Homo sapiens: one gene and its partners. The protein of the gene in region 1 purifies or fractionates together with the protein of each later gene. This does not show direct contact. Each region holds a gene or a part of one and is shown in the gene's direction. Other genes may lie near its edges. The genes, in order: FGL2, ZNF282, ITPR3 and CDK5RAP2.

What was found.
Region 2: the proteins of FGL2 (region 1) and ZNF282 purify together in Homo sapiens (affinity purification with mass spectrometry; 3 studies listed by BioGRID and IntAct, with this or other methods). This does not show direct contact.
Region 3: the proteins of FGL2 (region 1) and ITPR3 purify together in Homo sapiens (affinity purification with mass spectrometry; 3 studies listed by BioGRID and IntAct, with this or other methods). This does not show direct contact.
Region 4: the proteins of FGL2 (region 1) and CDK5RAP2 purify together in Homo sapiens (affinity purification with mass spectrometry; 3 studies listed by BioGRID and IntAct, with this or other methods). This does not show direct contact.

Annotation. Positions count from the first base shown.
Region 1 is NC_000007.14:77,196,803-77,203,915, reverse strand, and holds the start of FGL2 (fibroleukin precursor), read left to right. Parts: upstream 1-4,096; 5' UTR 4,097-4,122; coding exon 4,123-4,735; intron 4,736-5,598; coding exon of another isoform or gene 5,599-5,601; exon of another isoform or gene 5,602-5,681; intron 5,682-6,930; coding exon 6,931-7,113. UniProt on the Homo sapiens protein: May play a role in physiologic lymphocyte functions at mucosal sites.
Region 2 is NC_000007.14:149,190,617-149,198,551, forward strand, and holds the start of ZNF282 (zinc finger protein 282), read left to right. Parts: upstream 1-4,929; 5' UTR 4,930-4,973; coding exon 4,974-5,138; intron 5,139-7,716; coding exon 7,717-7,935.
Region 3 is NC_000006.12:33,687,322-33,694,343, forward strand, and holds part of ITPR3 (inositol 1,4,5-trisphosphate-gated calcium channel ITPR3), read left to right. Parts: coding exon 1-6; intron 7-156; coding exon 157-243; intron 244-735; coding exon 736-846; intron 847-917; coding exon 918-1,110; intron 1,111-1,334; coding exon 1,335-1,460; intron 1,461-1,916; coding exon 1,917-2,089; intron 2,090-2,712; coding exon 2,713-2,877; intron 2,878-3,595; coding exon 3,596-3,788; intron 3,789-4,293; coding exon 4,294-4,398; intron 4,399-4,479; coding exon 4,480-4,607; intron 4,608-5,406; coding exon 5,407-5,572; intron 5,573-6,223; coding exon 6,224-6,384; intron 6,385-7,022.
Region 4 is NC_000009.12:120,437,161-120,444,182, reverse strand, and holds part of CDK5RAP2 (CDK5 regulatory subunit-associated protein 2), read left to right. Parts: intron 1-440; coding exon 441-563; intron 564-4,210; coding exon 4,211-4,784; intron 4,785-6,655; coding exon 6,656-6,888; intron 6,889-7,022. UniProt on the Homo sapiens protein: Potential regulator of CDK5 activity via its interaction with CDK5R1. Negative regulator of centriole disengagement (licensing) which maintains centriole engagement and cohesion. Involved in regulation of mitotic spindle orientation.

The DNA of each region.
Region 1 (7,113 bases):
GTGAATATAGACTAATGAAAGTAAAATTTCATATGCGGCTTATAGAAATAAATTTTGCTACTTTAAAATCCCACCATGTATTGGTGTTAAATAATTTGCTTAAATCTAAAAACAAGTCTGTAAGTGAGTGTAATGTGTCAGTGCTGGGTCAAGGACAGATTCAGGGTAGTAAGGAAGATTCTGACACCGCCATGAGGAATAAGCAGCCGATACTAGGAGTCAGGGTAGACTCAGCATGAGAGAATCCAGAAGGGCTTTCAGCAAGAGAGAAGAGGCAGAAGGTCAAGTCATGAGGTGGGAACTCCTAGTAGTGAAGGACAAGTCAGCTCTTCAGGTTTCGATTTTCTGATGGCCTAGTCCTGCTTGAAACCCTCCCTTTTCCTGGTATTCATGACGCTCCTGTACTCTCCTGGTTCTCATCCTATTTCTTTGACCATCTTTTTGATTCCCGTGATTTCAAATTAACATCCACATCTATTCTGTGTCAATATTCATACCTAGATGTGCCACCACTCTTTGCTTGATATTTGCATTTGGTGGCTTGTCAATGCTTAAAACCCAGTGTACTGAAAACAGAAATACTACTACACTCTCCCCAACCTACTGCTACCTCTGTCATTAGCATGCTATCATTTAACTGCAATCAGAGGCAAATTTCAGAGTTGTCCCTCTCTTTCCAGTTCTCACCACTTATCAGATCCCATGGCTTCTATCATGCCTTGGTAATAATGCCTCCATCTCCTTTCCTACCCCTCCTGCCTCCACACTGGTTCACCTCTTATCTAGTGCCTGCTACCACACTACTAGCTCTCACCTAAAATGCCATTTCCCACTGATTTGCAGCAGAAGATTCATTCCTAAAATAGTCCTGGGGGGGGGGGGGGCAAGTATTTTATTTTCCTTGCTCAAAAACCTTTAGTGGCTCTCCATTGATCTAAGCATTGCTTTAAGCACAGGCTCTCCACATAGTTCTCACATACCCTCCCCATGTTATCTTTCCTCCTACGTGGCAATGTGGCAAAGAGAAAAGATATGAACTTTGAATCAGATACAGGTTCAAATTCCAGCTGTCTCTTAAAAACTCTAAAACAGAAACTGAAAACTGTAAAATGACCAGACAAGTCATTTATTGCTTTGAGCCCTTTCTTTGCTCATCTGCAAGTGCAGGGAGGAACCGTAGAGGCGGTACAACACTCTCTGCCCTCCATGAGTTATACACTCATTAGGGGAGTTGAGCCTCTTTTCATGCAGTAGTCACTTAGCATCTGCCTTCCAGTCAGTGGCCAAATGACTTTCTAAACCGAGAACCTAGCAGGTCACCTGTCAGTGTCAATGAAACTGGTCAACAGAGGAGTTCTCTACCCTTATGTCAGGGAATTTTTTATGCATTCTGAAGGGACAGAAGCCAGTTCTCAAAGCACATCCAAGCTTTTTAGGGGAAACTGTGCCATTGGCCCTTGGTTAACTGGGGTGTGACCAGCCAAAAATTAGCAGCAGTGCTTGACACGCACATTTCTGATTCAAACAGATGAACCAAAAGCCCACTGCAAGAGTCCAAAAGCTGTACTTCTGTTAGGTTTAGAAACTTTAAAAAGTACTTAAGATTTCATTTCAAAGTCCAACGTGAAGAAAATACCAGGTCTTTAATGCCCCTTTCTAAGAAGGAAAAAGGGATTTTTGTCTGATTTGTTCACCAGTGTGGCCCAAGTGCCTAGAATAGCGGTTTTGCATGCAGAGGGTGCAGAGTCAATTTATGATGAATAAATATATAGTATATCAATATATGTATGAGGAATAAATGAATGAAAGTGCCTGTGGCACGCATCTTATATATGCTCTAGCATAGTGCTGAGTATACAGAAGATCCTTAATAAATACTTTACTAACTAAATGCAGGGATTTATACTCTAGTCAGTCAAGGACATTTCACAATATCCTTAAGGACTAGGAACTAAATATCATTCCTATATATTTCTACTTTACAAAATGGTTTTTTTTTTTATCTATGTTGTCATCATGTCTCCTTTTTAAAATTATCTATTGTTTCATTTATTTCTTACCTCCCAACAGGGAAGTGTCACAGCTTGAAAATAGGTGAGAAGAAATGAGGTTAGGAGTTAGGGGATTAAATAGATATTTTTAGCTAAAAAGTTTTTGTCTAAAATTGGATATATTGAATGGAATGAAGAGAAAAACAATTTTTGAAAGAGCTATATGAAGATGGAAGAAAAAAAGTCATAAGGTGTGTAGAACATGTTTGACAAATTTATTTGGGAAGAATGTTACATTTATACACTGCATTTTTTTTTTTCTTAAGTGCTCTAAGTTTTTTTTTTCTTTTTTTGTGAGGGGTGGGGCTGGGGGATGGAGTTTCACTCTTATTGCCCAGGCTGGAGTGCAGTGGTACGATCTAGGCTCACTGCAACCTCCACCTCCTGGGTTCAAGTGATTCTCCTGCCTCAGCCTCCCGAGTAGCTGGGATTACAGGCACACGCCACCATACCTGGCTAATTTTTTTTTTTTTTTTTGTATTTTTAGTAGAGATGGGGTTTCACCATGTTGGCCAGGTTGGTCTCAAACTCCTGATCTCAGGTGATCCACATGCCTCGGCCTCCCAATGTGTTGGGATTACAGGCGTGAGCCACCACGCCCAGCCAAGTGCTCCAAGTTTGCATGACTATCATTCCTGTATGAGGGAAGAAATAGCTAAATTCCTCCGCTACAGCTACAGGAACAAAGGCTCATTAAAGCTGATGATCTGTTTACATGATCAGAGGTAGATCTAGGGTTGGAAGCCAGGTCTCCTGAGTATGCGAGAATAAATACAGTCATGGAAGAGTAAAGAGTCTGCCAACATTTTGAGAATGTGAATAGGATTTGGCTAAAATTAAGGGGATATACAGAAAAGTCATAGGAAATCAGGTTAAAGACATAAATATGAGATAGGCTACAGAGTGTTTTAAGTAATACAATAAAACATTTAGATTTTTGCCCATGTCAGTCATTTTGAAATTATTTTTAAAGCAAAAAAACCCTTTTTAAACAAGAAATCTTATGAGATGTCAATATGCAAAACAAATTAAAAGGAGGTGGTTTCTCTAACTGAAGCTGTTCCTCTTTCCTGCCTTCAGCCTCTGAAGAGAAAGTTAGAAAACTATTATCATTAATGCTACATGTTTTGAACAAGCTGATATACCAAGTGGCCCAGAGAGCAGGTAGAAGAACCAGCGTGGAGACAGAAAGCAAGAGGCCCGCCTGCCAGGGCTACCTGCAGAAAGAAAGGGCAAAGATGCTGTAGGCAAGAGAAGTTCAGGACAGACACTGGCATAGCTCAAAGATTCACATTTGAGCAGCTGTGGAAGATGACAGTACAATTACCAAAATGTCGAAGGGCAAAGGAGGCAGCTACTGGTTTTGATGAAAGACAATTATGTCCTTTTAAATGGGTCTTAGACATTTAGACATTAATATACACTATGCTACGGACAAAGGAATAGAAAGTAGCACTTTTTTCTCCACTAGTTTTCTTCTCTTTTTCAAGTAGATGAAGCAAAAGTCAACTGCAATAGTCAGAAAGCTGTACTTTGTTACACTTAGAAACTTCTAAAAGTGCTTAAGATTTCACCTGAAAGTCCAACATGAAGAAAATACAGGCTCCCCAATGCCCCATTCTAAGAAGGAAAAAGGACCATTTTCATTTTAGTAACGTTTCTGTTCTATAGACAGTTTGGATAACTAGCTCTTACTTTTTATCTTTAAAAACTGTTTTTCCAGTGAAGTTACGTATAATTATTTACTTCAAGCGTAAGTATACCAAATTACTTTAGAAATGCAAGACTTTTCTTATACTTCATAAAATACATTATGAAAGTGAATCTTGTTGGCTGTGTACATTTGACTATAATAATTTCAATGCATATTATTTCTATTGAGAGTAAGTTACAGTTTTTGGCAAACTGCGTTTGATGAGGGCTATCTCCTCTTCCTGTGCGTTTCTAAAACTTGTGATGCAAACGCTCCCACCCTTTCCTGGGAACACAGAAAGCCTGACTCAGGCAGCTGCCGCTATTAAAGCAGCTCCAGCCCTGCGCACTCCCTGCTGGGGTGAGCAGCACTGTAAAGATGAAGCTGGCTAACTGGTACTGGCTGAGCTCAGCTGTTCTTGCCACTTACGGTTTTTTGGTTGTGGCAAACAATGAAACAGAGGAAATTAAAGATGAAAGAGCAAAGGATGTCTGCCCAGTGAGACTAGAAAGCAGAGGGAAATGCGAAGAGGCAGGGGAGTGCCCCTACCAGGTAAGCCTGCCCCCCTTGACTATTCAGCTCCCGAAGCAATTCAGCAGGATCGAGGAGGTGTTCAAAGAAGTCCAAAACCTCAAGGAAATCGTAAATAGTCTAAAGAAATCTTGCCAAGACTGCAAGCTGCAGGCTGATGACAACGGAGACCCAGGCAGAAACGGACTGTTGTTACCCAGTACAGGAGCCCCGGGAGAGGTTGGTGATAACAGAGTTAGAGAATTAGAGAGTGAGGTTAACAAGCTGTCCTCTGAGCTAAAGAATGCCAAAGAGGAGATCAATGTACTTCATGGTCGCCTGGAGAAGCTGAATCTTGTAAATATGAACAACATAGAAAATTATGTTGACAGCAAAGTGGCAAATCTAACATTTGTTGTCAATAGTTTGGATGGCAAATGTTCAAAGTGTCCCAGCCAAGAACAAATACAGTCACGTCCAGGTATGTATAATAATGTTTTCTTATCATATGTTCATAAATGTTATACAGCTAGAGAGTATCTATAAACATTAACCTGAGTCAGTAAGTTAAATAGATGACAGATTAAGTCTTTTATTTATCAAGGTGCACAGGAAAAAATAAATATCTTCTCAAATATGACCACATAAATATGACCTAATTACAAAAATCATAGTTAGTTCTGTATCCACTGGAAGTCACTTTCAATTTTAAGATCTTATTTGTTAATGCCAGACCTACTTGCAAGCAGAAGTAGAGAGAATTTCTTGATGTTTTAGTGCATTTAACTTGTCTCTTCAATGAGGTGTTTGAAAACAATAAAGATAAGGCGATGTTCACAATTGTGCCTTGTTTGTTGGAAATCAGTTTTTCTTGTGATTGACTGACTGCCGCTTCTCATGGCTAAAGAGGTCTTTGAAAGATTTTAGCAAGTAATCTAGTTCTTAATCCCAAATATCTGGAGAAAATGGGAGAGTTTACAGATGGAATAAAAGCAGTTTCATATGTGTGCACAAATTTTTGCTTTGAGACCTAGTGGCACAAAAAATATTTTAAGGGGAGAGTTTTAGCATGCCACTAAGGGAAGGTATTCATATTTCTTTCTCTTTTACCTGAAGTTAGAATTCAAGCAGATAGAAGTAGAACCCATCCTCACCATCCAAATTACTTGAATTAACTTTAATAAATACATGTGAAATTCCACAGACTTAATCGCCTACTCCACCCACGAACTAACAGTGGTATTGACTCTCCAAACCTTGGCTTTTCACCTGAGTCACTGGGACCACTGTTGCTGACTGTCTCATACTTTGGAAAGCCATCTCCGCATTTGGACCTCTACTTACCATGAACGTGAGGTTGAAAGGACAGGGCGGAGATCACTTTCATTTAGAGACAGTATCTCAGGCATGCTCCATCCCCAGGGCATCTGCCAGTGAAGGAGGGAAGGGTCATATTTTCAAGGACCTCTATTGGTAATACTCCTGGCAGCCTGCATCTGAATGTACCTGGCACACTGCGAATCCAAGGTTCACCGCTTAGGTGACATCAGTGGGTATACATTAGATTAGATGCTGCATGGCAACTTGTCATGATATGAAGACTATTGTCTATTTTTCTCCTAAACATTTTGGGTGAAATAACTGAATATTCTGAGCTCTAAATATACAGGAATAGATTTTTATGCCTTAGGGTATCTCATATTAAACTTACCTTATTTGTCACACATTTTAATAAAAACTATCTGGGAGTAAATATCTGTCTGATTCATACAGAACTTTGTTAACTGATTATTATGCTTATCCTCAATATAGTCACCTGTTGTTTCTTTCTAGAAACCCAACATGTGAAATAGTGGCTAAATACTTTCCTAGATAATAAATACAGAATAAGAATATTGGTGTGTCATTGAAAAAGATACTTCTTTTTCACTTGAGCTTCTTTATATAGTTGTCAAGTGAAATGAATATGAATTTATGATCAATCCTATGCATTAGGATTTTAACACATCATTTGGAATATATGCTATAAAACCTTCTGACAGTAGAGGCTATCAGCCCCTTTAGGTGAAAGAAAATAGAAGCCTGTGCTTCCTCTGTATGCAAGGAATACAGTTCTAGGAGAGTTAGAATCATCTGATTTTTAGGACCAAGGGATGCAATGATTACGAGAACAAAGCTTTGCTGCCAGCCAGATCTGAGTTAGTGTCCTGGCTCTGCCACTTAAAGCTCAGGTGAAGGTGGGCAAGCCACTGATCTTTATGCCTAAATATCCTCACATGCAGACTGGCAGTAACGCCTACATCATAAGGTCAATGTTCAGATTCAGTGTGAAAATGTTACCCAGTCTGGCAGCATGCCTAGAACGTATAGGTAGGCCTCACTACATAATACTAAATTATTAAAACTGTACTTTTATTATTTTCTTATTGTCGTTTGCTGTTGATGCTGTCATTATTACTACCAACCAAGAGTATATTAGAGGTCCTTTCTGCTTTATAACATTAGGTTCTTCTTGTGAGGCCTTAAGCATTTGCTAAACAGGTTCAAGTAAGTTTAGTAAAGTTTCATTACTGCCATTGATTCAATTATCAAACTGCTTTTGTACATATAAAGAATTCTTCAGATGCATGGTTTCTATTAACAAGATCCAATGCCTTCCTTTTATTTCCCCTTCAGTTCAACATCTAATATATAAAGATTGCTCTGACTACTACGCAATAGGCAAAAGAAGCAGTGAGACCTACAGAGTTACACCTGATCCCAAAAATAGTAGCTTTGAAGTTTACTGTGACATGGAGACCATGGGGGGAGGCTGGACAGTGCTGCAGGCACGTCTCGATGGGAGCACCAACTTCACCA
Region 2 (7,935 bases), about 72 Mb from region 1:
CATAACTAGGCACAGTGTCCTAAAATGAAGGTGGAAAGCTGTGACCAGGGACATGCCAGTGGTGGAGGAAGCCTGAGAAGCTGAGCTGCCTTCCTTTCCCTATCCCGGTGACCACATTGTACTTCGTAGCCTGCTCATTAAATTAGGTATGGGGCAAAAAACCAAGATAGGAGTGCAAATTTGGTTACCCTCTTCACTTAACTAACAGTGAATCTAGAGGTTTTCTTCCTCAAATAAAGCTTTATTGCAGTTGTTGGAAAGACGCAGAGCACCAGAAATCTTTAGGAAATAGTAGACATAAATGTTCTGGCGTTGATGCATCCCCTCTCCATTGGCCTCTCCTGTATTTTTTTTTTTTGAAGTGAACATAAACTCAAGATTTTATTGTATTCATAATAAAAGATGACACTTAGAACTGGATCACTTGGCCCTTTTTCCGGAAAATCGGCTTAGTTTGCCCACCATAGCCACTCTGCTTCCTGTCATAACGCCGCTTTCCCTGGGCATGCAGAGAATCCTTGCCCTTCTTGTACTGTGTCACTTTATGGGGTTGGTGCTTGCCACACTTCTTACAGAAAGTCCGTCGGGTTTTAGGGACGTTAACCATGCTTGCGTGAGCGCTATCGGCACGGAAAGAAAGAAGCCGCGCCGCAAACGGAAGTATACCTTTTTTTTTTTTTTTTTTTTTTTTTTTTTTGAGATGGAGTCTCACTCTGTCGCCAGGCTGGAGTGCAGTGGTGCGATCTCGGCTCACTGCAAGCTCCGCCTCCCGGGTTCACGCCATTCTCCTGCCTCAGCCTCCCGAGTAGCTGAGACTACAGGCGCCCGCCACCACGCCCGGCTAATTTTTTTGCATTTTTAGTAGAGATGGGGTTTCACCGTGTTAGCCAGGATGGTCTCGATCTCCTGACCTCGTGATCTGCGCACCTCGGCCTCCCAAAGTGCTGGGATTACAGGCGTGAGCCACCGCGCCCGGCCTCTCCTGTATTCTTTAGTTCAGCATCTATCACTTCAAATATCCTGTCCAGAGCAGTAACAATAAAATTCCTAGGGGAGGGGATGAAAAGCAGTCAGTTCCCACCTGAGAGACTGAGGGGCCAGGCCTGGGTCCTTCCCTAACAAGAAACGTGTGTTAACCGTGATACATGGCATTTATAATCCACTTTATCCAGTTGCTCATTCTGCTCCTCGGTACGTTAGATAACTGTCTCCTAGTCACCCAGTGATTTCCGGAAACCAGTCTTATGACTGAACACTTCTCCCAGTGCAGGGTCTCTCCCACTCTTGGGGATCTCTCTGTCTCATCAGTCCGTTGATCATGGGAGGACCTATAACGGGGCCCACAGCCTGTGCAGCTACAGCAGCTTCCTCCTCATTCCCTGCTTGTTTTCCTTCTGGGAAGTTCTCCTTAATCACTCCCTTCACTACCTTCCTGCTGGTATCCACTACGGCCTTTTATGGCCTGTGGTTGCTAGGCTTGGTGGTTATAAAATAATGTTAGTGGCCAGGTGCGGTGGCTCATGCTTGTAATCCCAGCACTTGGGGAGGCCAAGGCGGGTGGATCATGTGAGGTCAAGAGTTTGAGACCAGCCTGGCCAACATGGTGAAACCCCACCTCTACTAAAAATACAAAAATTAGCTGGGCATGGTGGCAAGCGCCTGTAATCCCAGCTACTCGGGAGGCTGAGGCAGGAGAATTGTTTGAACTTGGGAGACGGAGGTTGCAGTGAGCCGAGATTGAGCCACTGCATTCCATCCTGGGTGACAGAGTGAGACTCTGTCTCAAAAATAAATAAAATAAAATATTGCAAGTACAATGAAGCCTGTGCATTTAAATTGTTTGAGTTGAGTAGCTTTGCTCATATATCTCTTTTTTTTTTTTTTTGAGACCGAGTCTTGCTCTGTCGCCAGGCTGGAGTACAGTGGAAGGATCTCGGTTCACTGCAACTTCCACCTCCTGGGCTCAAGCGACTCTTCTGCCTCAGCCTCCAGAGTAGCTGGGACTACAGGCGCACACCACCATGCCTGGCTAAGTTTTGTATTTTTAGTAGAGATGGGGTTTCACCATATTGGCCAGGCTGGTCTCAAACTCTTGACCTCATGATTTGCCCGCCTCGGCTTCCCAAAGTACTGGGATCATCTTAACAATGAATGGGACCTCTAGCTCTGAGCAACTACTCTGGTCACAAAGGGTGATAGTGTTGATGGCTGCATGAAAATCCACCCGCTGTGAAGGAGAAATGTGAAGTAGACACACTACAGCGATGTCTTACTATGTAACAAAGGACATCGTTATAACTAGTTAAGTGCTTAGGAAGGGAAGTCATTTTAAAGGCTTTATACAGAAAAGATAGCATAAATGTTTGGGACTAACCTAGTCCTTCCTTTATCACCTCTAGGAAAGAGAAAAGATAGTTGATAATCTACAGTGCAGAAGACGTGTTCTGAAATGTGGCTCGCTGGTGGAAATGAATTTGCCTAGAGCTTTTCAGACTTAACTTGCCTGGTTCCTCTAATAAAAGTGGACGTGATGTTTACAATCAGGGCCAGGAAGCAGGGAAGGAAATCACTGACTTCTGGGAGCATGGACTTTACTGGCCTATAAGCTCCTTGAGGATAATCTTAAGTCTGTGAATACTCATTTCTGTATCCTAGAAGTGTGCCTAGCAGAGAAAGTACTTGGTAACTGTTCTTCTGAATATGGCCTTCTAAGCACATGTCTCACGTAGGCCAATAATGTCCTTTATTTTATGAAGTGCAGTGGAACTTAAAGGTACTAGCAGGTCTGCTTCCACACAAGGTGATGAGCCTCAGAGATCTCTTCCTTAACAAGACAGGGACTGGTCCTTTAGGAAAACAAAGTAAATACTATTTTGAGAATAATTACAAAAACACCTTTTGGGGGTAACTATCTTTGCAGAATGCTCGCTATGTGCCAGGCACAATTCTCATTTAATTTTACAACATTAAAATAGAGTTGCCATTATTTTCTTCATTTATATATGAAGAGAATGAGGCTCAGAGAAGTTAAATAAGTTGCTCAAAGTCATAGCTAGTGAGTGGTGATTTTGGGATTTAAACTCAGGTGTATGCAACTGCAAAGCTCACCCTCTTCCTAAACAGTACCTGGCACACAGTAGGTGTTCAATAAATACATTTGGAATGACTGAATTTTCCCCTCCTCCATCTTCATCAGCTTATACTGGCCTCTCCCTGGCTCCTCCTCTGACCTGGCCTGATGTTTCAAAGTGACACTGACCTGCCTTTAAAGGGTTTTATTTGTAGAGAAGGGATCTCGCTGTGTCACCCAGGCTGGTCTTGAACTCCTGGCCTCAGCCTTGGCCTCCAAAGTGTTGGGATTACAGGTGTGAGCCACCATGACTGCCCGATTTAAAGGTTTATTTATTTATTTATTTGACACAGGATCTTTGCTATGCCGCCCAAGCTGGAGCACAACGGCACAATCACAGCTCACTGCAACCTCCAACTCCTGAGTTCAAGCAATCCTACAGCCTTAGCCTCCTGAGTAACTAGGAGTACAGGCATTAGCCATCATGCCCGGGTAATTTTTATTTTTTATTTTATTATTATTATTATTATTTTTTTTTGAGACGGAGTCTTGCTCTGTTGCCCAGGCTAGAGTGCAGTGGCGCGATCTCGGCTCACTGCAAGCTCCGCCTCCCGGGTTCACGCCATTCTCCTGCCTCAGCCTCCCGAGTAGCTGGGACTACAGGCGCCGCCACCACACCCGGCTAATTTTTTTGTATTTTTAGTAGAGACGGGGTTTCACCGTGTTAGCCAGGATGGTCTCGATCTCCTGACCTCGTGATCCGCCCGTCTTGGCCTCCCAAAGTGCTGGGATTACAGGCGTGAGCCACGGCGCCCGGCCTTATTATTATTTTTTGAGATGGAGTCTCGCTCTGTTGCCCAGGCTGGAGCGCACTGGCGCGATCTTGGCTCACTGCAACCTCCGCTTCGGAGGTTGAAGCGATTCTCCTGCCTCAGCCTCCCGAGTAGCTAGGATTATAGGCCCACGCCACCACGCCCGGCTAATCTTTTTGTATTTTTAGTAGAGACGGGGTTTCACCATGTTGGCCAGGCTGGTCTCGAACTCCTGACCTCAGGTGATCCGCCTGCCTCAGCCTCCCAATGTGCTGGGATTACAGATGTGAGCCACCGCGCTCGGCTAATTTTTATTTTTTATAGGGATGGGGTGTCAATATGTTGCTCAGTCTGGTCTCGAACTCCTGGGCTCAAGTCGTTCTCCTGCTTCAGCCTCTCAGAGTGCTGAGATTACAGGTGTGAGGCACCACGCCCAACCCAATTTCAAGGTGTTTGAAGAGGCCACTGTTAAAATGCACTGCACCTTACCTGGGAGAAAGAGCTCAGCCCTCTTTTGACACCTTAACATGAATCACTTCTCTATCATCCATAACAGTGCAAAAGCTCTGGGATGGGTCCAGGTAAATCTGGATTGGGAAGAAGGGGAGTGGGAGGTAAAGTCTGCAAAGGAGTGAGGGAAGGCAGAAGGCCAGAAGAAAGTGTCTGAAGACAGAATTACTCCTGCAAAATTTTCACAAGGGTCAGGCACTATTTTCTCCCGGGATGCCCAATACATTTGCAGAATTAACAGTAATCAAGCCCACAGTCCAGGTCCTCGCATAGTTTGGGCCTTTAAAGTCGGCCATCCCAGATTGAGGGGGCCTGACCCCTGGGCGAGGCCGCCGCCTCTCAGTTTTGGGGCGGTGGCGACCCCAGTCCGGGAGTGGCCCCGGTAGGTCCCCGCAGGCGGGCAGGAGCTCCGAGGCCATTGGCTGGCGCGCGGGCTGCCAAGGGGCGGGGAGCGCCGCCGAAGGGGACTGTTTGCTCCTACGGGCTGTAGATGGAGCTGTCCGGCCCCGGAGAGGGGGAAGGCGCCTGGAAAACGTTCTTCTTCTCCCTGGCCGACCCGAGCGGGGAACAGCACTCCCAGGATGCAGTTTGTGTCAACACGGCCGCAGCCTCAGCAGCTGGGCATCCAGGGCCTGGGGCTGGACAGCGGGAGCTGGAGCTGGGCCCAGGCTCTGCCCCCGGAGGAGGTCTGCCACCAGGAGCCGGCGCTGCGCGGGGAAATGGCCGAGGGAATGCCGCCCATGCAGGTGGGAGAACCCCGCCGGCGCCATGGCCGCGCTGCCGTGGGGGCGGGGCGCGGGCTGGGCCGCGGGACCGGGCCGCGCCGTCCTCCGGTAGCCTTGCGGCGCCCTCCCAGCTTCCGCGCCCAGGCGAGGCCCGAGGCGGGCGGGGCACGGCCGGGCTGCGCGGCGGGCAGGACGGAGCGGGCCCGACGCAGGCCCGGAAGGGCAGGCCTGGCCCGCGCGGCGCGGAGCAGCGGTCGCCGGGCCCAAGTGCGGAGGCCCCGCGGGGCGGGGGCCGGGACCGTCCTTTCCGGGACCTGGCAGAGCTCTGACCCTGTGGCTGAGCCCCGGCTTGGGGCTCCCTTTGCGCCCGGCCGGCGGAGAGCTTCGCGGGCAGTGCTTCCGCCCGGCCGCAGAAGTGAATGCCTCGTTCGTGTTTACACGGTGGCCAATTTGACGGGGATATTTTTTAAATGTTTGATTACCACCTTTCACCAAGTGTAATGAGTAATTCACTCTCCCCCTGCACCGGGTGTGATCCAGGGAGGGGGCCATGGAGAGATGACTTCGGGGTCTTTCCTGCGGTTGACAAACTTGGCCGCATGTTGGAATGGCCTGGGCAGCTTTTAAGACTCCTGAGCCCTTGCCTGGTCCCAGAGCTCAGGGTCTCTGACGGGTGAGAGTAGCACCAGGCATTTCTTCAGGCTCCATCGATGATCTCCGTGGGCAGAACCGGTGCTCCAGAATTGGGTATAAAACCAGGGGAGGTGGATCCTCAGAGAGGCCTGAAAGCTTGCCCAGGGAAGACTCTCTGGGCCCACCCTGGGGCTGGGCTGCTCAGGGGCCCCTCTGCTCACCACGCGGCTCTCAGCCAGGTGCTAACGAGGGAGCCAGGGGCTGCTGTGTTGTGTTTGATCATTTTCAGGGTTAGGGCTTCAAACCCGAGAAAACTAAACTGGGCCCCGGGACTTTCTTAACTTCTACTGTGGACTCTGTCCCCTTCTGTGGGCTAGGGCGGAGTGGAGCCTCTGTGATGGAGGAATGGGTGCTTTTGATGGAAACACCAGCACCTCTTACTGGTATTACAGGGCCTGGCGATCCTAGGGCCCTGCTCTCCACTCTGCTGTGTCCCGGAGCAGGTCTGCCCCGGAGCAGGGCTGCTCTTGAGTCAGAGAGTGGGGCTGGTCTGCCCAGATCGCCCCAAGCAGCAGGCCTCCCCTTTTCCTAGCCTGAGGGCCTTTTCTGCAGCCATCGGGAGGACAGAAAATGACACCTCTTCCTGTCCCAGGTGTGAAGGAGAGTCGGCTGCCAGCCCATGTGGTCCAGTGAGCCCTGAGTCTGACACCAGGTCCCAGATGACCAGTGAACTGTCACCAGCCTCAACCAGCCCCCCTTAGCCATAGGTCTCAGCTCTCAATTGCACCAATTAGTTTACCCTTCTGGGGTGAGGGCTCTGTGCTGGAAGATAAAAGGGGGAGTCCCCAGGCCATGGGGCACCCCTTCCCCAGGAAGCAAGGAGGGGTCCCAGAGGAGTTTTTCTTTCTCTTGGTCCTCTTGGGTGTGAGGGACATCCCCTCTTCACCTCTAATGAGTGACCTTTTTTAGTGAACCTATTTTCAATTTGGAAAATGTTTATGAAACAGTAGTTGTATATGGGGGGAAGCTGCTTTTCTGCCCTAGCTTGGGCTCTCCGGTCTTTTCCTTGACTGCAGCCCTGGTAGGAATGTGGTGGGTTTTTTTGTTGTTTATTTGTTTGTTCCGAGACGGAGTCTTGCTCTGTTGCCCAGGCTGGAGTGCAGTGGCACCATCTCGGCTCACTGCAACCTCCGCTTCCCAGGTTCAAGCGATTCTCCTGCCTCAGCCTCCCAAGTAGCTGGGATTACAGGAGCCCACCACCACACCCGGCTAATTTTTGTGTTTTTAGTAGAGACAGGGTTTCGCCATGTTGGCCAGGCTGGTCTTGAACTCCTGACCTCAAGTGAGCTGCCTGCCTTGGCCTCCCAAAGTGCTGGGAAGGTGTGAGCCACTGCACCTGGCCAGGAATGTGTTTTTTGTTACCTGCAGCATCTAGAGCTGCCCCAGCTGGCAGTGCAGGGAGGCGCTGCGGAGTGACCAGCTGCCTCCCTGTGCTTCAGTTTCATCATCTTTAAGGCAGAGATCATCATTCTTGCCCTAACCTGCTGAGAGATTGCTGGGAAGATTAGCGTCAGCTAACTTACATCAAAGTTCTTGGAAACATAAAACACTAGGCAAATACAAAGTTCGTCATTAAGGCTAGCCCTTGAAGAAATCAGTTGGTCTATTCAAAGAAAGTGGCCTGTGACATTTTAGGCAGGGGTTGCAGCCTTAACTTGCTAAGGGTCAATGTGGGTGAACCAGTGACCAGCCTGACTCACCTAGGCAGGAGATGGGAGAGTGTTGAGTTGGGTGGGTGGGTGAGTGGGTAGCTGTTGCTGGGGGTGTTAGTGTATCCTGAGTTACGGGGGCCTGGCAGAAGAAAGACGACATGTAGCATCTGATTAGTTGACCCCTGTTCCCAGCTGACTTCCCCGGCTCACACAAGGTCTCATCCTGGGTTGTCGCTTTCTCCCTCTGCATACAGGCTCAAGAATGGGACATGGACGCCCGGCGGCCAATGCCTTTTCAGTTCCCACCCTTTCCAGATAGGGCACCTGTCTTCCCCGACCGCATGATGCGAGAGCCCCAGTTGCCCACAGCAGAGATCTCACTCTGGACTGTGGTGGCTGCCATTCAGGCTGTGGAGAGGAAGGTGGATGCCCAGGCCAGCCAGCTGCTGAACCTGGAGGGGCGCACGGGGACA
Region 3 (7,022 bases), on another chromosome or scaffold:
CTGCAGGTACCAGTTCCACCCGTGGCAACGGCCATCACCCCCCTGGCCACCATACCCCGCCCCAGCTGCCATCATCCCCCAGTCGCCATTGTCGCCCCCCAGCCACCATGTCCCCCAGCCACCACACCCTGGTGACTGTGCTGCCATTTCCCTCAGCTCTCCAGGCACAATAAACAGCTGCAGCACCTGCTGAAGCCGGTGAAGCGCATTCAAGAGGAGGAGGCCGAGGGTATCTCTTCCATGGTGGGTGCTGGCCCCGAGACTGGGGTGGGGGTGGGGCCTGGAACCCAGGGAGGACACTTGACCCAAGGGCGTGGCCTGGAACAGAGTGAGGCCCTAGAATATGAGCCAGGCTAGAATTTGGGGGTACAGCTCAGGGGGCTGATTGGGACTGGCAGCCGTGGGTGAAACCCAGACAGAAATGGAAGCAAGGCTCAGGTGGGTCTAGGGTGGGTCTGGAAGCTTCAAGCAGGACCCGGGCTACACTTGGGCAGGACTGAGGAGGCCCCCGCTATCCTCTGGGATTCTCTGGTCATGGCTCTCCCACTCCCCTCCCTTTGGCACCAGGTTCTCAAGGCTCAGTCCTAGTTGGGCTGGGCTTGGCCTGCTCTGGCTTGGCGGGGACACTCGCTGAAGTGTAGTTCAGAGCTAGGCGAAGGCCTGGGAGGGTGGGGGCTGAGTGCCAGCCTGGATGTGGAGGCTGGGGCCTGACCTCCGCGCCCTCCCCACCTCCAGCTCAGCCTCAACAACAAGCAGCTGTCACAGATGCTCAAGTCCTCAGCGCCAGCACAGGAGGAGGAGGAAGACCCCCTGGCCTACTATGAGAACCACACGTCCCAGATCGAGGTGGGCCTGTGGGCAGCAGGGGCGGGCGTGGGAGCCTGCGCCGGGCGTGACCATGTGCTGTGTGTGCTCAGATTGTGCGGCAGGACCGCAGCATGGAGCAGATCGTGTTCCCAGTGCCCGGCATCTGCCAGTTCCTGACGGAGGAAACCAAGCACCGGCTCTTCACCACTACTGAGCAGGACGAGCAGGGCAGCAAAGTGAGCGACTTCTTCGACCAGTCCTCCTTCCTGCACAACGAGATGGAGTGGCAGCGCAAGCTCCGCAGTGAGGACCCACGGGCGGGAGGGTGGGGCGGTCTGGAGCTGTTCACTGATGCCCTGTTATAACGGCCTCCTTTGCCTGCCTGTGGGTGCCCTGCGCCCAACCCCGCCTCACCCCAAGGAAGGGCTCTTCCATGTGTGGCTTCCTCCTGAGCGGGGCCCCACATGCAAGGGGCAGGGGGTGCTCACCAGGGCCCTCCAGCAGCTCACCGTTGCCCTCCTCTTCAGGCATGCCGCTGATCTACTGGTTCTCCCGCCGCATGACCCTGTGGGGCAGCATCTCCTTCAACCTGGCCGTGTTTATCAACATCATCATTGCCTTCTTCTACCCTTACATGGAGGGCGCGTCCACAGGTGAGAACACAGGGCTGGCCGGCAGGTTCCCCGGGCCCTGCCATGCTTCCTCCCTGGGTTGGGGCAGAGCCTTGAGGCCAGCTGGCCTCTGAGGGCACCAGATGCAGAGTGTGCAGAAGCACCCCCTGCGCCATCCTGTGGGCTCTCGCCCCATCATGGAGACACAGGTGCGGTCAAAGGGGATGGTCAGGGTCTTTGACCTCATGGGAGATGGCGCATGCAGGCACGTGCACACGCATAGATGTGTCAGCCAGAAACAAAACCTGGTAGCCGCAGCCGGACAGGGCCTCCCGCTTAGGCCTGAGAGGCAGGTGTAATGGAGGAGGCTAAAACCAGGCACCAGGAACTTAACCGGGAAGGCGGCCAGGAGAAGGTGGCTTTTCGGCACCTGTTGGACCTGCTCTGGGGCCGTGGTGGGCTTGAGGGAGCCCTGCTCACCCTGCCCCTGGCCCCCAGGCGTGCTGGACTCCCCTCTCATCTCATTGCTCTTCTGGATCCTCATCTGCTTCTCCATCGCGGCCCTGTTCACCAAGCGCTACAGCATCCGCCCCCTCATCGTGGCGCTCATCCTGCGCTCCATCTACTATCTGGGCATCGGGCCCACACTCAACATCCTGGGTGCCCTCAATGTGAGTGCCAGAGGGAGCCCCCATTCCCAAACAAGCTCATGCTCACTGTGCATTCAGACGGCAAGCTGGCCTGCTGCTTCCAGGAGCCACTGCTCTGTCCCATCCCCTCCTCTCTGTTGGGCTCCCAAGTTCCTTATAGACCGGTGGCAGGGACTGTTCTGTACCTTCTTCCTTTCCCTCAACACCTGAGGGCAGCTGGCACTCAGAGACAGAAATTCAAGAGTCCCTTTGGAGCAACAGGGTCAGGGTGGCTGTGCACACTGTGCGGGCTGTGCACTGCCCAGAGGCACTGCTACGCGGCAGACGTGAAGATTCATACATAATGACAATCTCCTGACAGATGGAAATAAAGTGCTTTGAGCGAGGAATACCTTTCCCTGATAGAGCCAGTCAGTGGTCTTCTCTGTCCCCATCCTCCGTTGCCTGTACCTCACTGTCTTCCTGGAACTGAGGACCCAAGGGGCTGCCTCTGTATTCTGAGTCCCAGGCGCCTAGATGCGTTTCTGGAAGCAATTTCATTAATGCCATGCCTCCCAGGCTCTGAGCTGGGCACTGGGGGACATGCGTGCAGATTCAGCATAGGTGGTAGGGTGCTGACTCTCATGCCTTGCACTCGCCCCCAGCTGACCAACAAGATCGTGTTTGTGGTGAGCTTCGTGGGCAACCGTGGCACCTTCATCCGGGGCTATAAGGCCATGGTCATGGACATGGAATTCCTCTACCACGTGGGCTACATCCTGACCAGTGTCCTGGGCCTCTTTGCTCATGAGCTGTTCTACAGCATCCTGGTGAGGCCTTCTGGGTGGGCTGGGGCTGGATGGGGGCATGGGGTGGTTGGGGCTTCCCATGAGTTGTTGGCAGTTCCCCGGCACCAGTCTGTCTGTCCAGTCCTTTTGCTGCTGGGCTGGGAGCAGTGAAATTACAGAGTCTTCATCTGCCTGACCCAAGCCTGGCCCTCAAGGCCCTGATGGCCACTCCTGGTGGCCATCTGACCCCTTTCTCCTGTACAGTGGTGGTTCAAGCCTGGACTCTGGAGCTGGACCAGGGCTTTGCATCTCAGCTGGGCTACTACTAGCTGTGTAACTGGGCAAGTTTCTTAACTGCCCCATGCCTCAGTTTCCTCACCTGTAAAATGGGGATAACAACAGCCCCTGCATTCTAAAATAATTGTGAGATGAAATGAGCTAATGCATGGAAAGCACTTACACTGTTTCCTGGCATGCAGCAAGTACATTTTAAGAGTTGGCTGGTATTCAGCCACCCGTTTCACCCCTCGTGCCTTCCCCTGGGCCACTCCCTTTCTGTGACCTTAGAATTCCAGGTTTCTCGAGAAGCTCCCCTGACAGGCCCACCCAGCTTGGATACGACTAAGTGCAGACCTCCCTGGAGGAGCCTTGGGAAACTGTCTGGAGCCCAGGCAGCCCTCAGGGTTCCAGTGGCAGCCCCAGTGAGAGTGGCCGGCCCAGCCCCTCAAGGTGCCATCCCTATCTCAACCCCATCCTGCAGCTCTTTGACCTCATCTACCGCGAGGAGACGCTGTTCAACGTCATCAAGAGTGTGACCCGCAATGGCCGCTCCATCCTGCTGACAGCCCTGCTGGCCCTCATCCTGGTCTACCTCTTCTCCATCGTCGGCTTCCTCTTCCTCAAGGATGACTTCATTCTCGAGGTCGACCGGCTGCCCAACAACCACTCCACAGGTCTTGGAGGCTTCCTCTCCTGGGCAGGTTGTGGGGAATGAGGTTGGGTCTCACAAATGTCTGGCGTCAGGACCAGGACCTGCAGCGCTTACCTCACCAGGCTCCCGTCTGCTTCTCCTCTTGGCTTCTGGGGACGTCTAGCTAACACCAGTCTGCCTCGCTCTTTTCTGGAACACACTGAGTGGGTGGGAGAGCCTTGGGTCTCTGGCCCCTAAGGAACCCCTTGCTTGAGGGCTGGAGTCCCTTGAACTGTCATTCATGTTAAACCCAGTATTTGCAGAAACTGCCCGTGTGCCAGGCCTAGGGGTACAGAGACCCCTCCCTGCCCTTAGTGTGCAACCCAGTCGGGGGCAGAAGCGTGATGACCCTTCACTGTGGCTGGACAGTGGAGGGCTGGCGATCCAGGACCAGGGAAGGTTTCCTGGAGGATGTGACACTGGGGACAGAGCCAGGGGATAAGGCCAGGCACTGGACCTCCTGATGATCTCATCCATATCCCCTCCAGCCAGCCCCCTGGGGATGCCACATGGAGCTGCTGCATTTGTGGACACCTGCAGTGGGGACAAGATGGACTGTGTCTCAGGGCTCTCGGTGCCTGAGGTCCTGGAAGGTGAGGGTGGTGTGTGTGCAGGAGTCTGTGTGGGGTAGGAGGAGCAGGCAGCCCGGGCCTCAGCACACTCTCCGCTTGCAGAGGACAGGGAGCTGGACAGCACAGAGCGGGCCTGTGACACTCTGTTGATGTGCATCGTCACTGTCATGAACCATGGGCTACGCAACGGTGGTGGCGTGGGCGACATTCTCCGCAAGCCCTCCAAAGATGTGAGCACTCCTGCCCACTCCCAAACCTGTGGGGCCCAAGCCACTGTCCAGATCAGCAACTGTGGAGAGTCCTGTCCTTGGCCTCGCGTCAGATATTCAGGGTTGAACCCCCTCCCCCGAACTTGTATCCACTTTTCCCTGCTTTCCACACCTGGCCAATTCCATGATATTACTGCTTAGCTGCCCCCTCACCCTCCCATTCCATAAGGAAAGACTTTGGCAACCAAACTTTGCCCCAGGGCTAGGGATGGTGACCACTGGCTTTCCTAGCCCACAGCAGGTGGGCAGAGGGCGGAGCTGAGTCAGCTTTATCAGGAGGCCTCATGATTTGGCTTGGGCAGCCACATTCCCGAATGTCAGGCCTTCCCCTGTTGCTTGGGAGTGAGAGGCCGCCTCCCTGGCCAGACAGAGGGTTTCTGGAATGTGTGAGGCCAGGCGTCCTGAGGGTGGGCAGAGGTGTTCAGAGCTGCCTCTTTCCCTCATCAATGTTAGGGGCAGAGACACACCGAGACTCGTAGCCCTACCTCCCCGCCAGACTCCTTCTGCAGGCCTCCACCCCGGCGTGTCCTGAGTCCACGCTTTCCTAACCCAAACTCAGGGCTTCTGCTTGCAATTCTTGCTCTGTGGAGCCAGGTTGGGTCCACTCTGCCATCTGATGGCCCCCAGGCCAGAGGCCCTCATTTCCTTCTGCTAGGGGCTGGGTCCTCAATATCACAGCCCTGGCCCCAACCTGAGTCCTATCTTGCCCCAGTGAATGTGGGGACCACCGGGCCCAGCCTCCCTGCCTCATCCCCTGCAGGAGTCTCTCTTCCCAGCCCGAGTGGTCTATGACCTCCTGTTCTTCTTCATCGTCATCATCATTGTGCTGAACCTCATCTTTGGGGTAATCATCGACACCTTCGCTGACCTGCGTAGTGAGAAGCAGAAGAAGGAGGAGATTCTTAAGACGACATGCTTCATCTGTGGTGAGGGCTGCTTCCTGCTCTGTGGAGGCCGCAGCGGGGCTGGAACGTCATCTGATGCCAGTGGCAGTAGCGGTTTGGCCCTTCCTGCCCTGGGGAACCCTGGCCCGGAGCTGATGACTTGATGCATTTGCTCATCCCAGAACTGGGGAGAACATGACCCTGCCTGAACTTGGAGTCAGAAAGGAGTGGGACAGGCCCATCCCTGTAAACCCTTGGGGTTTCTAGGTGAGGACATGAGCCCAGTCAGTGTCTGGAGCTTCTGGTCTCAGTCCAGTGCTTTTCCTACCCCTGAAATGAAGTGCTAGTCCCCTCACCAGCCACCTCGGGCTCAGGCAGGTGTCACCTGTATGGCCTGTAGGACCTCGCTCATTCAGCCATTCGGGCTTCCCCTGAGTTCGAGAAATTCTCGCGTTTACTCCTGGAGTCCTCGGTTGCTGCTGCGGGAGGGCTGCAGCTGCGGCAGGGCAGGATCTCCACTAAGTGGCTGCTGCTTTAAATAGAAGTGACCCAAATAGCCCAGAGCGAGCTGTTGGAAGCGCTCATCCCGAGAACAAATGCCTCCAACCCCCGGAAGCTGGGTCCCCTCCAGCAGGTGACCCTGCAGTGGCTCTTGAAGGCTGATGGTTTCATTCCCGCCCTCTGCACCCTCAGGTCTGGAGAGGGACAAGTTTGATAACAAGACAGTGTCATTTGAGGAACACATCAAGCTGGAGCACAACATGTGGAACTACTTGTACTTCATTGTGCTGGTCCGCGTGAAGAACAAGACCGACTACACGGGCCCTGAGAGCTACGTGGCCCAGATGATCAAGGTGTGAGCAGGGGCTGTGCCAGGCCTGTGGGCCCAAACCAGCCATTCTAGAGTCATCACTGTGCACCAGAGGCCTCATGGTTTTAGCTTCTGAGTACCCTGGGCCCTGGAGAGGAGTGGCCCTATCTGACTGTTGGCCCTAGGAGGCCAGGCAGAGGGGCTCGGACAGCTGCAGACACTTGTTGAAAGGTCAGCAGGGCGAGGAGCAGCAGCTGGAAGCAGCTCTGGGCTGCACGGAAGCCGCTGCTGCAGAGGGGCCTCCTCACACTTCTGGGTGTCAGGAAAAATCCCACAGCAAACCCATGCGCCCCGAAGAACACGTGTGGTATCCCTGGGCCTGTCGTGCAGTGATGCTGAGGAGGGGTGGAGTTGGGGAGACCCTGCCCGTGGCCAGTGATCTGTGGGCCGCTCTCAGGGAGTGTTTTCTAGCTCGGTGGGAAGGCAGGCTGCTTCCTAAAAAGTCTGAATTAGATGATCCTGGGCTGAAGGGGAGCCTGGAAAAACTTTAAAAATCACTTACAGAAATCAAATGTCATCTGTCCAATTTCTGTAATAATGGAGTGAAGGCAATGAATCATAAAGAAGGAATTATTTATCGTTTAGTCTGTATTTCAAACTGATCTTTGTGTACAGGTTTAT
Region 4 (7,022 bases), on another chromosome or scaffold:
CTCGGCCTCCCGAAGTGCTGGGATTATAGGCATGAGCCACCATGCTGGCTCCTAGCTTGCCATTTGCACTCAATACTGTTTTTATTTTTTGCTGAGACACCAGAGTGCCTCAACTCCAGGTGCTACCTCAAACAGTTGCCCAGGAGACCCTAGGGCCTCTCTCTTCTTGGGAAAAATGGGCACGAATTGATAGAATTCATTTTCTCACTCAGCTTTTTGAGAGCCTGGACTTAAACCATTTCAGACAAGCTGCAGTATATTTATGCTTTTTATGTCCTGTTATGGCAGCTCGATAGATTAATTTTATCTTATAAATTGCATTTTGCCTCCCCAGTGTTTTTATTTTCCCTGTTGTATCTTTGTGTTCTTCTCAGTTGCTTGGCTAAGTTTCAGGTCTTACGGTTTTATTTATTTTTCTTTCTCTTTGTGATTGCCTGTAGCTCAGCCCCCTGTGGGAGCAGCCTACCAGGACAGCCCAGGAGAGCAGAAAGGAATTAAAACCACATCTTCTGTCTGGAGAGACAAGGAAATGGACAGTGATCAGCAAAGAAGCTACGAGATTGGTCAGAATTCAGCCCCTGTGTGTATTGAACAGCTTCCATGTGCCAGGCACCATTTGGATGTTTTATCTAAAAATTATTACTAAGCCCATAGCAGCCCTCTCAGGGCATTATTATCATTCCAGTCTAACACATGGGAAGCTGAGGTTTTAAGAAATAATTGACCCAGGGTCACCCAGCTGGTAAGTAGGAGAAGAGTCAAGGTACAGTAGGATGTCAGAACCCACCCGTCCATGTGTCAGCATGCTTCTCTACCAGGCAGTGGGCTGGGTTCTGGTGGTTCAACATGAAAAGACACAGCCTGCTCTTAGGGACCCCACAGCTCGGAGGAGACAATCATCCCAACAGCCTGTTAGTATTCAGCGCGGGGCTGCCTGTTGCTGAGGTGTGCTTGGTGTTGGTCCGTGTGCCCAGGAGGAGTGGGTCAGAAGAGAGCCTGAGGCTGAGACTGGGTTTGTGGGGTTTGCCAGGCAGATCAGTGGAAAAGGTGCAGAGATACGGGTGAGGGCAGAGGCAAGTTGTATTCCTTTCTTTTTAAAATTATGAAGTATTAGAAGCATACATAAGCACAAAAGATAATATAACAAATACTCATGTTCTCATTCAACCAGAATGAACAAATGCCTACATTCTTTTTATGTTAGATATTTTTCCCCCTTCATTAAAAAAAATCACTATTAATCCAGATCTAATTCACTCTGTTAGAAATAATTGTCCTCAAGAATCCTAAATTTGTCATGGGATGGCCATGGGGACACCAGTCTCTGGAAAAATACTGAGTTGTGGTATATACACTGTTGTATACTTTTGCAAGGTCCAGAGTCACTGCAGTGAACACATGGTCACATGCTTCTGCGTGTTCTGGGCTTTGAGGAGAAAGCTACTCTACCAGGCAATAAAGTCCCCCTTAGCTGAATTGTGGAAAGTTGTAGAACTATAGTATTTCTTATAATGCAAATATTCATAAATGGTCTTGGGGACATCTTTTGATTTCTTCTTGATAGTTATTAATACAGACTTCTTAACTAATCGACAGCTTCCCTTTCCCTGTCAGTACTTCCCTTCATTACTGAATGTCTTTCATTTTTCTGAATGTGCTTCCAGAACTTTGTATGTGAATTGCATCTGCCTGAACTTCCACCTTTTAATTGTTGCGCAGCTGAGGCTGGGTGCTGCGTGTGACATCTTCATTGCTGTTTCTTTTTCACAAGGCCCTTGACAGATACTTGGGATGTGAATAAAGGATTTTACAGGCATCTTGGCCTTCACATTGAGGGTTAAGAACTCTCTCTCTCTTTGCTCATGCACCGCGGTACAGGAGATTGGATTGCAGGAGTGTTACTTCGGGAAGCATCATTCAGAGTGTTAGAGGCAGACTGCCAGGCTTTGAGGAGGGGCTCTACTGCTTACCTACCCTGAACCCTAAGCAAATTCTTAAGCTCCCTAAGCCTCAACTTCCTCTTCTGTAAAATGGGGGTACTAGTGATGCCTCATAATTACTTAAGGAAAGTCCTGGGAACTAATCTTTATTTCCATGAGTGAACACGCTTCTTGCCATGAAGTACAGACCAAATTCTATTATCATGAGGTTATTACAGCAAAGATATTTTCTTGTCTTGGAGGGTGATTCACTGGAAAAAAAGCCTTATGGAGAGATATCTCCCTCCCCAGTTCCTCTTTCTCTTTCTTGTTCAGCCAGAAATACTTGGTGAGTACATTCTCTGTCGCAGACCCTGTGCTAGATACTGGAGAAACAGACATGGATGACACGGTCTGCACCCTCAAGGCTCTTATTGAGTAATTATCATAACATTGTGTATAATAAAAATACTGTATTAGGAATGCTTCCTTTAGGTCAGGTAGCAGCTGCTTTCTGAAATGAAATGCCATACTTTATGGTATTTGCATCATGAACAGATACAAGAGTGTACCTCAAGTCACAAGGAGCAGATTGCAGAACCAGAAATTGGGACATGCAGTCTGATGAGGATTTGTGTGTGAATTTCTTTCTGAGAGATCTCCTAGGTCACCCAGTCCAACCCACGTTGTTGCTTTTGTAGCATTTTTCCAGGCTGGCCTTCGCACGCACGCCTCCGGTGAAGGGCATCTCCTTCTATCTTGGAATGGTTAGAGGATGTTTGTGTTACTTGGATTCCTTCACTACTATGTGCCAGACACTGTGCTAGCCTTTTTTTTCTTTTTGCAGATTTTGTTCCATATAATCCCTAAAAACAAACACACACACACAACTTTTCAGTGATGTTCTTTCCATTTTACAGATAAAGCTACTAAAGCTCAGAGAGGTCAAGTAACTTGCCTATGTGACAGAGCCAGAGTTTGAAACCATGTCTGTTGAATTTCAAAGACAGGTTTTTCTACTACATTCCGCTGCCCCTTAAGTATTCAGACAGCTCTCTATATTGAACGGAACTTTCCCTGGGCAGCCAGCAGTGTGGCACAGTGGTTAAGAACAGAAGCTGCACTACAACCATATGAGACATCTCTTTCTACATTTTAGACACAGGGGAAACTGAGGCTCTTGGATAGTAAAGTCACTTGCCTCAGGCTGTGTGGCCTTCAAACTTCATATTCTTTCTGCTGTACTACTCCACTTCTGAAACAAGTTTGACTGCATCTCTAAGGGTTTAGCTATTACTAGCTATAAGGAAATATTTCCTGGCAGTGTTGTGAGTGAGTGAAACACCTCACTAAAGGGGATGTCAGGGCATCTCCTGGAAGCCATTAGACATGGAAATGAGAAGACTGTCACGTGTTGTGGATATTCAGAATTACCACTCTTTACTGTTGCTTCACAGAATCTCTCAATATTTCTCACACTGGCACTGACTTCTGGTCTGGGTTAGGTTCTGTACTAGACGCCGAGAATGTGAAAATGAAAGGCCACATCTCTGCTGTGAAGAAACGTGCAGTCTGGTGAGGGAGAGCTACATTCAGATGACGAATTGCTATGTGAATCAATAAATAAGCCACTTAAAATTTTTACTTTAGCACCCAGCACATAGTATATTTGTCTTGAGTAATATGCATAAGGTGCTACAGAACCACAGCGAGTTGTGACTTTTGCATAGTTTGGCAGTGGGCTTGCAGAGGAAGGAAAATTAGATCTGGGTATGGAAAGAGTTCATTAGGTAGGAGTAGAATAGAGGGCTGAAGGTGTTCCAGGCAGAGGGCACGGCCCATGCAAAAGCATGGAGGCATGACACAGCACGCAATGTGCAGGGAATCATGGTTAATTTTGTAGGAAATCTCCAGAGTGGTGCCAGAGATATTCCTGGAAAGGTTGCCTGGAACTAGATCATGGAAGGTCTCATGTAGATACTGGGAATGTCGATGAATTTTAGGGGGTGTGTGTGTGGGTTTATCATGGTTAAAATTACTTTTTAGAACAGTCACTCTGAGGAAGAGGACAACTGAGGGGTAAAGAGGGAAAGACTAGGGCTTTTTGAGGGAGGCTTGTTAGGAAAGACTGGAGGCTTTTTGAGGGAAGTGTGTTAGGAAATACTAGGGCCTTTTTGAGGGAGGCTTGTTAGGTCACTGCAGTGGTCTTGGCTTGGCTAGGGCTGTGAGGAAGGAGAGAGGGTTTGGATTTTAGTAAAAGAGATACTGACATAAGTGTATTTGATTTTCAGACTCTGAGATTTGCCCACCTGATGACCTTGCCAGCTTGCCATCATGCAAAGAAAATCCTGAAGATGTTCTGAGCCCAACTTCAGTAGCTACTTACCTGAGTTCCAAGAGTCAGCCTTCTGCTAAAGTCAGTGTGATGGGGACTGATCAGTCAGAGAGCATTAATACCTCAAATGAGACAGAATACTTAAAACAGAAAATCCATGACTTGGAAACTGAGCTGGAAGGCTACCAGAATTTCATATTTCAGCTTCAAAAGCACTCCCAGTGCAGTGAGGCCATAATTACAGTTTTGTGTGGGACAGAAGGGGCCCAGGATGGCTTGAGCAAGCCCAAGAATGGTTCTGATGGGGAAGAAATGACCTTTTCAAGTTTGCACCAAGTGCGATACGTGAAACACGTGAAAATCCTCGGTCCGCTGGCCCCAGAGATGATTGACAGCAGGGTGCTGGAGAACCTCAAACAGCAGCTGGAGGAACAGGAATACAAGCTGCAGAAGGAGCAGAATTTGAACATGCAACTTTTCAGTGAGATCCATAATCTGCAGAATAAGTTCAGAGATCTCTCACCTCCCAGGTACGTTCCACCTCTGCCGTCTCCCCGTTTAAGCCTGTAGTCCCCCAGTATTGCCACTAGGTGGGAGCCCATGAGCTAAAAGAGAACACTACTCTGTGATGGGTAGAGTGTGTTCTGGGGAAGGCTTGATGGTGGGGTTCAGGCAGCCAGGTCCTGTGGAGAAGGGAGAGGTGAGGCCACAAAGAAGAGGAACAGCGACCACGCACTTGAACGTCAGTTACGAGTCTTGGGTCCTCTGGAAATCTGCAGGGCAGATTTCGCCCTCCTCAAGTTGGGGGCTCAGGGTAAAGGTTTCATACCAGTCACTTGGTGAGTGATAGTGCCTTTGCTGAACTGCAGTGTGTACTCCTGGACTCTGTTACTGGCTTTTGCTGTGCTGTGAAACTAAAACTGATGTCTAGGCAAGGTAGGAGGAATATAAATATTTTCCATATCTTTACCCTTTAAGGTCATCTTAGAGAAATAAGCTTGTGTTGAAAGAGAAGAATTCTTAGGTCATGAAGATAATGCTTTATGGGCATAGATATATACGGTTTTGCTTCATGAGATATGGCAAAAATGGGATCATTAGTAAAGTTGACCTTCATTTGTCACTAATTTGAGTCAAACACATTGTTCTGAATTGTCAGGAGCCAGGATGAATTTTTCAAGACTTCCCAAGCAGTGAGATTGAAGGAAGCTTGTAATTATTGAAAGGCTGTTGTCTCAGGCCCCTGGTTAGGCACTTTTCTTATCTAATCCTCAAAATCACCTGAGAAGGAGGTATTCTTAAACTAGTTATTACAGGTAGGGAAACTGAGCCTCAAAGTAGCTGCAGTGACTTGGCAGAGAACATTCACAGAGCTGGTCAGAGCCATTGCCAGGGTTCAAGCCCACATCATCCCACTCCAGTACCCATGTTTACTCATGTTACTCATGAGTTACCCATGTTTACCCATGTTACTCCAGTACTCACATGATACTGGCCCCCACCTTTAATGCTGGTATCATGTAATCTGCATGTGCACACTCTATGTTGAAGGTGACTGCCAGCCCATGTAGTGTTGTCATTTCCAGGAAGGAGAAAATTATGTTGAACTGAAGTGTCAACATCTTTGCCAAGCTACTCTCTGGAGCAAGGTTATTGTGGCCAGTTTACATGAGTCACATTTCCCTTAACCTGTTTACTTCTCAGTGTCTTTCTCTTATGGGCTCACGTAGGAAAAGGTGGCACATGACGGTAAAAAGGTAATATTGCATAATGATCTTCAAAGTGAGAATTGTGTTTGAATCCAAAATCTTTACCACTTAATTAGCTTTGCAGTCAGTTTATTCTTCTGTAAAAGGGGACATTTATACATTTGTTGGAAGACTGAGAGGATCAGATAACATATAAAGCACTGAATTCAGTTACTGACAGGTCCTAGACCCTCAGTAAATGGTAGTTAGCATCATGATTATTCAGTGACGTTTTGTTCGGGAGGAGAGAGTCCTGTCTTTTTTTCTTTGTGGTACACTTTCTTTATCACACTTCATGAGAATTTTTGGTAGATCCTCTGACCCTTGGGGCACTTGTTTCTACAATTCAGAATAGTATTTTTGAAGAGTGTATGGAAACTTATTGTTTGCCTGAGTTCTTGCCAATCTGTACTTTAATTGGGGGCTTTATAAGGTTAAAAATGTTGCAGAAGAATCTTTGTTCCAGCCTTTGTTGGCTGTGTGAAATCAAAGAAGAGCTGACCTTGTACAGTTTCAATTTTTCTAAAAGTATATATACTTGTACAGCTGCAGGCTTTTAAAAATTGTACTCTGTCATTTTTCCAATTAGTGTTAAGGTCACAAAAATTCAATTCTAAAATGGTCCAAGTATTTTCTTTCCCCTCTTTTATCAGATACGATTCATTAGTTCAGTCCCAAGCCAGGGAGCTCTCCCTTCAACGGCAGCAGATTAAGGATGGCCATGGCATCTGTGTCATCTCCCGTCAACACATGAACACCATGATTAAGGCATTTGAGGAGTTGCTGCAGGCCAGTGATGTGGATTACTGTGTGGCCGAGGGTTTCCAGGAACAGCTGAATCAATGTGCTGAGCTGCTGGAGAAATTGGAAAAGCTATTTCTCAACGGTAGGTAGGGTGAGGTACGCGAGTCTTAAGACATCAGTAATTGACCCAGGACTTCTTGGAGGGGCACAGGAGGAGCTAACTCCTTGGCCTTAGTTATCTTTCACCCCTCTGCCTTGATGAGGTGACAGCAGAAC